Regions from separate parts of the Homo sapiens genome. Here region 2 is linked to region 1. The links come from fine-mapping of genetic effects on gene expression. A gene starts in region 1. The other region holds a variant in brackets. All regions are shown on one strand. Distances are between the middles of the regions.

Evidence for each region. PIP is the estimated chance that this variant, and not a neighbour inherited with it, causes the effect.
Region 2: its variant is the best candidate, but not a certain one, in a credible set for the expression of MFAP3L in thyroid (GTEx, PIP 0.69).

What each region holds. Positions count from the first base shown.
Region 1 is chr4:170,024,328-170,028,720 of GRCh38, reverse strand. It overlaps MFAP3L (microfibril associated protein 3 like), which reads left to right and starts at 2,326. Exons shown (of 3, transcript NM_021647.8): 1 at 2,326-2,487. RefSeq lists enhancers at 1,101-1,240, 1,230-1,949 and silencers at 1,421-1,490, 1,949-2,348, 2,429-2,518.
Region 2 is chr4:169,953,814-169,958,206 of GRCh38, reverse strand. All of the region lies in intron 1 of LINC02275 (long intergenic non-protein coding RNA 2275), which reads left to right. Among named protein-coding and RNA genes, the nearest start is that of LINC02275, 20 kb to the left of the region's middle. The variant T/C (reference allele first, on the strand shown) is at 2,491.

The DNA of each region.
Region 1 (4,393 bases):
GTGGCAGTACAGACTGTTGAAAAGACATCTTGTCCACCTTTGTAAGGCTAGACTATTTGTGGTGTGGATGTCAAGGGGTACCTGGGCAAGTTCAAGGGCACTGCTCAGGGCATACCAGCAACAATGGATTCTCAAAGCACAGGAGGAGGATGAAGGGGACACTCCAGCACAAGCTAGGATTCCATGGTGGAAGCAGCTAAGTAAATGTATTCTTCCAGGAGTGACCTTCCATAGAGATAGTGTCTCTGACCACGCTGAAGCTGAACTGGAGCTGGGCAAGGCAGAGAGGTTCAAATGAAGGGTGACTCCCACTATCACACCAAGCCCCACTGGGCAGCTGACCTGCCTGCCCATCCTCCTCCTCCTTAGACAGAAAACAGCGAATTCCATTCGCCTTTCTGCTCTCAATGAAAGGCTCTCTTTGGGTTCTTTACTAATCTACAATCTGTAAAAGTACTTTCCCTGTGACTTTTCTCCATTTCAGTACTGTCTTCTCTAAATGAGAATTAAAAGCAAGTTCCCCACACCGACCTCAAGTGGTTTCTAAGATAGCAAGAGTGCATTTTGCAGGTTGTCTGAGAATTTAAAAGAGATGGGGGAGGGGAGGAAATAGAGTCAGAGTGAATGCAGAAATGCTGGAGAAGAAAACGGGATATAATACTGCGGAATATTTTAATAGTGGGGACACAAATGTCATAATTAATAAAGCAGGTGGAAAGTTCGCGCTGTGGTGCAATTGTAAAGAATGCTTATTAAATACTTAAAAACAAAGAAAATTTACGTTTCTCAAAAGGACAGCTGAAAAATTCCTTGAGCTAAAATGTGTTGCTATTCAAGATGCCATAAAACTAATGTTAAAATATGATATCTCATTTCAATCTTTTTGGGGGAAAAAATCAGGCTTTGACTCACTCATACGACAGATCCCACGCACCCACCCACCAACATGGCCCTTGGCATGGGCGACCTGCCCACGTGTCGATGCAATCGTGCCTCTCTAGAGCCCTGCTTCCATCCGTTTCCCGAGCTTCGATGTCGTGACGAGAGACCGCGGCTACATCAACCTTGGGCAACCAGATGCAGCCGCGTGCGGCAGCCTGGCACTGCCCGGAGCATGCTCAGTCGGGTCCTGACCCACTTCTGCAGGTCCGACCTCGGGGCGTGGGGTCAGAGGCACTACTTTGCCAGTTTGCCAGGAACAGAGAGGAGCAGAGAGACTGAGAGTTGCTAAAGCTCCTCTCTTGGCACAGCAATGCCTGACCCGGCGGCGGAACATGCCCAGTCTGGCTGCCGGAGCCGCCGGGAGCGTCAATGTGGAAAGTCCACCTTTCCGGGTTTTCGCAGCAACCCACCGGGAAGAGGGCGGTACGGGAGTAAAAAGGCCGGAGTGGGGTGTGGCCAAGAGGGCGGGCACTAAAAAGCCGGGGGAAGGAGCCTGGTCCCGCCCCAGAAATTGAGAGTCTCTGTTCTCTTTTAAAATTAAAAAAAAAAAAAAAAAAAGGGAGATAAGGAGGAGAAGAAGCCACTAACATTGCAGGATCGTGTAGCGAAACTTCTGTAGGTACTTAATAATTTTAGAGTACTCTACTTTTTAATTAAAAAATCAACTTATGGTTCATTAGAAAAAACGTGGAAATTACAAATAATATTTTTAAAGAAAATGAAAAAAAAATTCCTGGAACCCCACCACTCAGAAAGTCACCAGGGAACGGCCCGCTGGGTTTTTTTCCAGACTCTTCCATCTGTGGACTTTGCTTTAAGAGACGTTTAAGACTTACAGCGCAGTCGCCCGGGAAGGCCTGAGAAGCTTTCGGAAGCAAGGTGGTTTGCTCGTGATTGCATTTGATTGCAAGGAGACAGGGTAGGCTTGGGGGTGGGTTGACTGGTTCCCATTTAGCGCCCCAGGATGGGACCCTAAGAAGCCTTTTCCTGGGTGTCCTTGAACACGCGTGCGATGCGACGCCCACAGAAGTTGCGGTGGAAGCCCCGGGCGGGAGAGAGAGCGGAGTGAGAGTCCCGCGCTGCCGCGGAGGCCCTGGGCCTGCGGGTGTGGGGCTCTGGGGGCCGCCGAGGCCCGGCCCAGAGGCTGAGCGGACTGAATGCGGGACTCCCCGGCAACTACAGCCTCCGGTGGCTCCTCCGCGGGGCCGCTCCGCAGCACCGACTGGCTCGCGCCGCACCGCCCGCCCCGCTGCCCCCGCCCGCGGCTGCCGCGAAAACCCGGCGGCTACACCCGCGCCTCCGCGCCGCCCGGCGAGCCGCACTGGGCATGCTCGGCCCCGGCCGGCCCAGGCTCCTGTAGGTGGGAAGCTCCGCGCTCCCGGCAGCCGGCGGCGCAGCTCGCAACGCTGTGAGGCGCCGGCGGAGGCGGCTCGCCCGCAGTAGGCGCTACCGGGCGTCCGGCGCAGAGTGCGGCGCAGCGGCCGCTGTCGGGCTGGCCATGGCGAGGGGTGCACGGCGGCCACCTGAGTGGCGCGGCGGTGTCAGGTTAGCGGGGGCCCCCGGCGGGCCGGGGCGGAGGGGCACGGGTGGGAGCCAGCCCCGCACCGGGTCGGCGGCCGAGTCGGCGCCGGGGCCGCCGAACTTTCGGGTGTTTGGGCTGGCTGAGACTGCGGCGGAGGCTGCGCTGCGAGACGCCGCAGGGTCCGGGCAGCGGGCTCCAGGGGGTCGCAGGATGCTTCGAGATCCGTGCGGGGCGGGGGCTGGCCGTTTGGGGACTGCCGCATCCTGGGCTCGAACCGTAACCTTCCGAGGGCGAGGAGCGCGGAATCCACTGCCAGCTGCCGGCGAGCCTCCTAGGTGTCGTGGGGGAAGGGGACGCCGAACAGCCGTGGGGGCTTTCGCTGGGCTCTGGATCTCTCTCATCGCTGTGCCTCAGTTTACCCGGACAGGGAGGAGCGTGCGCTGGCCAGGGCTCCGGAGAACGTGAATGCGGGTTCCGCGTCGGGAGGGCGCCGTGTCCTGATGCCGCAGGAGTGCGGGCGGCTGTGGGTGCTGCGAGCCGCCGCCTCGCTACTGAAGCTCTCGGAGTTTGTCGCATTTGACTCCATAACAAGTTGACATCGAATTGCTTCATGGCGTGGAATGGGGAAACGTGCTTCATCGGATTAAAATACAGAGTGATTGCAGAACCGATTTATTTTAAGCTTGATCATTAAGCTGTCTTCTCCAGCCCTGAAAAAAAAACTTGCAAGCTTTATAAAGCAAGGTAGCAAAAAAAGGTTTGTAGGTGTATTATCTGCTCACATTGTAGAAAACAGTTAAGATACGATCGAACTGTCATTATTTTTAAGGATACTTAGCAGAAAAGTTTGGTTACTGTGGCAATCTTTATTTTGCGTTATCTTCGATTTAATGTTAAAAACTTGGAAACCGAGCATTGCAGAAGCTCAGTGTTTTTTGTAGTTTTCTCACTTTTGTTTCTAGATGAAACACATTTTTTTCAGTTGCTACTATGCTGAACATAGTAAAATCCTTCAAGATGAAATACAAGATGGAAAAAAATGTCGTTTCATGAGACCGTAAGTTATAACAGTGTAGTTCTTCTGACATTTTACTTACACAGAAAGTGCAATTTGTAGGTCCCAGTGTGGTTTCTACAGTTGTTTATTCCTAAAACATTTAGTACCATTAACACTATTAGGATTATTGTATCTAATAGGGGCAAGATAAACAATCCTGTTCTAGTGGGAACTAGTTCTGCTAACTAAAGCTAAATTCTCAAGCCTCTTTTCTATAAGTACCACTTAGTGGGTTCAGTTGTTTTATTCATTAAGCTTATTACAAAACAATTGTTTACATTCTTTATAGACCTTAATAGACTTTAGAAATGCATTGACTTTTCATTGAGTTGTGGGTAGGCTTTAAGGTTGGTGCTTGCTTGCAAGCCTGAGATGGCTCCAGCTCTAATTCTGGATACTCTCTGGGGTGATTTCCCCCAGTATAGAGTTGGCTCTGTCCTGTGATGCTGCATAACCGAGGTTTAATAATAGGAAAGGCTTGAAACATCCAGACAACAGCAGTAGCAACAACATGATTACCATTTTTATGAATTAGAACCTGCAGTCCCCCATTTTAGCCAAATAGTCTGGTTGGTGATGTTCACTCATCCTAAATTTATTTCTAAATACATTTATAGAAAAATAAGTTTGAAAACTCCAACACAAATATTGAATAATTGTGCTTCTCTTTTCTATAAAAATGCATCAAGTTTAAAATCTTTCATGAAGTACTGCCTGCATGTACACCTTATCCTGAACAGCAGGTCTCATATCCTCAGGTGACATTCCCCAGTAGAAGTAGCTAGAGTCTCCCCTTAGCCTTGGGTTCTTCCTGACCTGGAGGAAGCAGCAAGGCCTCAGTTTACTTTTTGTGAATGTGAGGTTTAATACAG
Region 2 (4,393 bases), 71 kb after region 1:
TATTTTACAGTCACCCCATTGAAAGTTAGATTCTATGCCCCTTCCCCTTGCACCTGGGTGGGCTTGAGGCTGCTTCACGCAATAGAGTATTGCAAAAGTGATCCTAGTGTTTTATGAGGCTGAGTCATAAGAAGTGATGTGGCTTTCGCCTTATTTGCTGGGATACACGCATTTGGAGCCTGAGGCTGCCATGCTGTGAGGAAGCCTGGCTCTGTGGGGAGTCATGTGCACACACTCCACTCAGCAGTTCTGCTCATTGTGTCTTCCCAGTTGGGGTCCCAGACATCATGAAACAGAAAAAAGTCATCTCTTCTCTGTCTCTTCTGTGCCCTCTCCAAATTCCTAACCCACCAAGTCTAGGAGAATAATAAAATAATTGCTTTATGCCAGTTAGTCTTGGGCTAATATGTTACACAGTGAAAGTAACTGGAACAATTTTCTATGATTCCAAAAGACTTTGTTTAGGCCGAGCACAGTGGCTTACGCCTGTAATTCCAGCTACTTGGGAGGCTGAGGCACAAGAATCACTTGAACCCAGAGACAGAGGTTACAGTGAGCTGAGATCATGCCACTGCACTGCAGCCTCAGCAACGGAGCAAGACCCTGTATCAAAAAAAAAAAAAAAAAGACTTGGTTTATGCCAACATTATAGCCCTTGATTACATTGCAGAATAATTTTATTTGTCCTGCTCAATGGATTGCAAGCTCCCCAAAGGCAGGAAGTCTGCTTTATTCATCTTTGTATACCTACTGCCAACCATGGTGCCTGGCACATGACAGATGCTTCATATATGTTTGTCAAATAAATATGTTTGTCATATATGTTTGTCTATATTTGAATATATAGATGTCAAATAATATTAGATGAAGTTATTTTAAAATTATAATATAACTTACATTGCCGGGCACAGTGGCTTCCTCCTGTAATCTCAGCATGTTGGGAGGCCAAGGCAGGTGGATGGCTAGAGCTCAGGAGTTCAAGACTAGGGTGGGCAACATGGTGAAACCCTGTCTCTACCAAAAAAAATACAAAAATTAGGTGGGTGTGGTGGTACACGCCTGTGGTCCCAGCTTCTCTAGAGGCTAAGGGGGAAAGATCGCTTGAGCCCAGGAGGCAGAGGTTGCAGTGAGCTGAGATCGTGCCACTGCACTCTGGCCTGGGCGATAGAGCCAGACTTTGTCTCAAAAAAATAAAAAATAGATTTAAAAAAATTTTTAAATTTTAAAATTGTAATTTAAACTTATAATCACTAGAAATTTTTATCCAGTGCCTCAAACTCCATGGATTCTCAAAAACCCATACAATGGCTGGCAGTGCTTGTATATCTGCATATACATTTAACACACGTCACGTGAGTGTGCACACGCATTTTGTGTGCATTTGTTCTCCCCAGACTCCTCACCCCAGCCTCACCAGCATCTACGTATTTATTGGACTAATCACTCAAAGAGATCCCCTAACTTGGGCTAGCTTACAGGAATCCCTTTATTCTTCCCTGCCACATAAATCATGCCTGAACATAAAACCCTCCTTGAAGTCATTCCTGTTGAATTAGCACAGAACATGACAGAGAGCTGGCCTCTGGCTTCCAAACCAAGCCAGCAGTAAGCCTGTAGGATTCTTAATAGGTTCTTTCATGGGATAGCCACACATCCTTTAACCAGCAGTGGCTTGCACATTCTTCCTTGATTGTTAAACACTATTTTTATGCAGTTTGAGTAAGCCAAGAAAGTAGAGTTTTTGTTTTCATTGCCAGCTTTAGCTGACTATATATAGATACATATTATATGCTCACACAGATATGTGACATATATATGTATATTCACACCAAGTTTTCTCCGTCGGGTTAGCAGCCTGATTTGGCTTCACTCTGGAGCTTAGAGCTCCTGGTGAGACTTCAGGGAATGCTGTTCACTTGCTCTTCCATGTGCTATAGAGGAAAAATCTGTGCCAGCCCTGCTAAATGCCAGGCAAAAGCTTCATTCTGTCTTCATTTATTTTGTTGGGTTTGAGGTGAATCTTGATTTAGTTTTCACATGCAAACCAATTATGCCACTTTTCAAGGGTCTAACTTTGTAAACAGCATTTCAAGAAGCCGCATAAATCAACAAGCCATGTAAAGGGGCCGAGATTAAAGTACACATGAAATTTACCCAGAACTGAAATCAAAGACTCAGATTAGGATTGGTGGAGGAATTTATATGTGAACCATATAAGTGGGAGATGGGATTTTTCTGGGATGAGAAGGTGCCTGGGAGACCACACGATGGATGGTGGTGGGCCAAGAAGAAACTGGTCATTAACCTGTCTGTAGGCTGTGACATAAGAAGAATTCAGCCAGGTGCAGTAGCTCACGCCTGTGTTCCCAGCACTTTGGAAGGCTGAGGCAGGCAGACCACTTGAGGTCGGGAGTTTGAGACCAGCTTCGCCAACATGGTGAGACCATGTCTGCACTAAAAATACAAAAATTAGCCGGGTGTGGTGGGGCA[T/C]GTCTGTAATCCCAGCTACTTGGAAAGCTGAGGCAAGAGAATCAGTTGAGCCCAGGAGGCAGAGGTTGCAGTGAGCCAAGATCATGACACTCCACTCCAGCCTGGGTGACAGAGCAAGACTCTTTCTCAAAAACAAAACAAAACAAACAGTAAAGTGTCCAGAATAGGCAAACCCTCAGGGGCATCGTAGATTAGTCCTTTCCAGAGACTAGGGGGTGGGTAGGTGGGGGGTGACTGCTGCTGGCCAGGGGGTTTCATTTTTGGGAAGTGATAAAAATGTTCTTTTTTTTTTTTTTTTTTTGAGACAGAGTCTTGCTCTGTCACCAGGCTGGAGTGCAGTGGTGCAATCTCAGCTCACTGCCACCTCTGCCTTCCAGGTTCAAGTGATTCTCCTGTCTCATCTTGCCGAGTAGCTGGGACTACAGGTGCCCACCACCACACTCGGCTAACATTTATATTTTTAGTAGAGACGGGGTTTCACCATGTTGGCCAGAATGGTCTTAATCTCTTGACCTCGTGATCCACCCGCCTCGGCCTCCCAAAGTGTTGGAATTACAGGCGTGAGCCACGGCGACTGGTCAAGAATGTTCTTTAACTGAGAATGGTGATGGTTATAGCTCTGTATATTGTACACCTGAAAAAGATAAATTTTATAGTGTATGGATTACAGCTCAAAATACTTCATGGCTTCAAACAACAACTCACTGCTATTTCTCACAGTTTTTTGGATGATGGGGTTCAGCTGAGCAGTTCTCATCTGGGTTCTCTCTGAAGTTGCCGTCAGATGCTGGCTGGGGTGACAGTCACCCAAGGCTTTGACTGGGCTAGATGTCCAAGAGAGCTCGCTACATAGCTGGCAGTTGATGCTGGCAGTTGGGTGTTGACCAGGGCAACCACACATAGCCTCTCAATGTGACTGGGGCCTCTCACCAAAGTGGCAACTGGCTTGTCAGAGGGAACCAAGAGGCAGGAAGCTTCCAGGCCAGATGGCACAGCATCATTTCCACCATGTTGTGTTTGTTAAAGGAGTCACAGATCCTGCTCACATTCAAGGGAGACGTGACAAGGTCCCATTGCAGAAGACCACATGGTTTCGGAGATATTACCGTAGGTATCTTTGGAAAATACAATCTGCCATGCTATCCTAAACATCAAGTTGGAAATAATAAGATCTTCAGAGTGTCTGGTCTATTGCCATGTATAATAAAAAATTGGGGACCTATAATCATATTGGTGACAATCTCTGTGTGAATAACCTCTTCCCTATTGTATTTAGAAATAAACTCATCCAGAAACCTCAGTTGTCTCTGCAGGGCTCTGGAGCATGGAGAGATGATGGTTTCTGGGTTCCCCGTCTATGCAGGATTTAATGATATTGGGTCTGGGAAAAGGCACTCAACGTTATATCCCACCACAGGGTCAGCATCCTCAAGCACTGTGTTCTTACAGCTCCAAACATCTGCAGGTATTTCTATAAAACCTTTGCTCGCCATGCCTCTATGCAAGTTCTAATAGGTTATACTTCAAGAAATCTCTTTTTCTTTGCTTCCCGGATATTAGCAGGGAAGAAAGAAAGATCTACTAAGACTAATCTGAGTAGAATTCCAATTCAGTGAAGTAAGATACTTAGGGCCGCATCAACGTTCACCCCAAGTTTATTTTACTTGCAAAATCATAATGCTGGAGCTAAAAATACCCTAATAACATGCATAATGAATAAGGAAACTCAATATTGGTAGGCTTTGGTTGTTACAGTAAAACCCGTTTTCTCCTGTGAATCATTTATTCAAATGACCACCCTTCTTTACAGTCCATCTCCTAATCTATACACCAAAATTTTGGCCAGCCATGGCAGCTCACACCTCTAATCCCAGGACTTTAAGAGGCCAAGGCTAGAGGACCA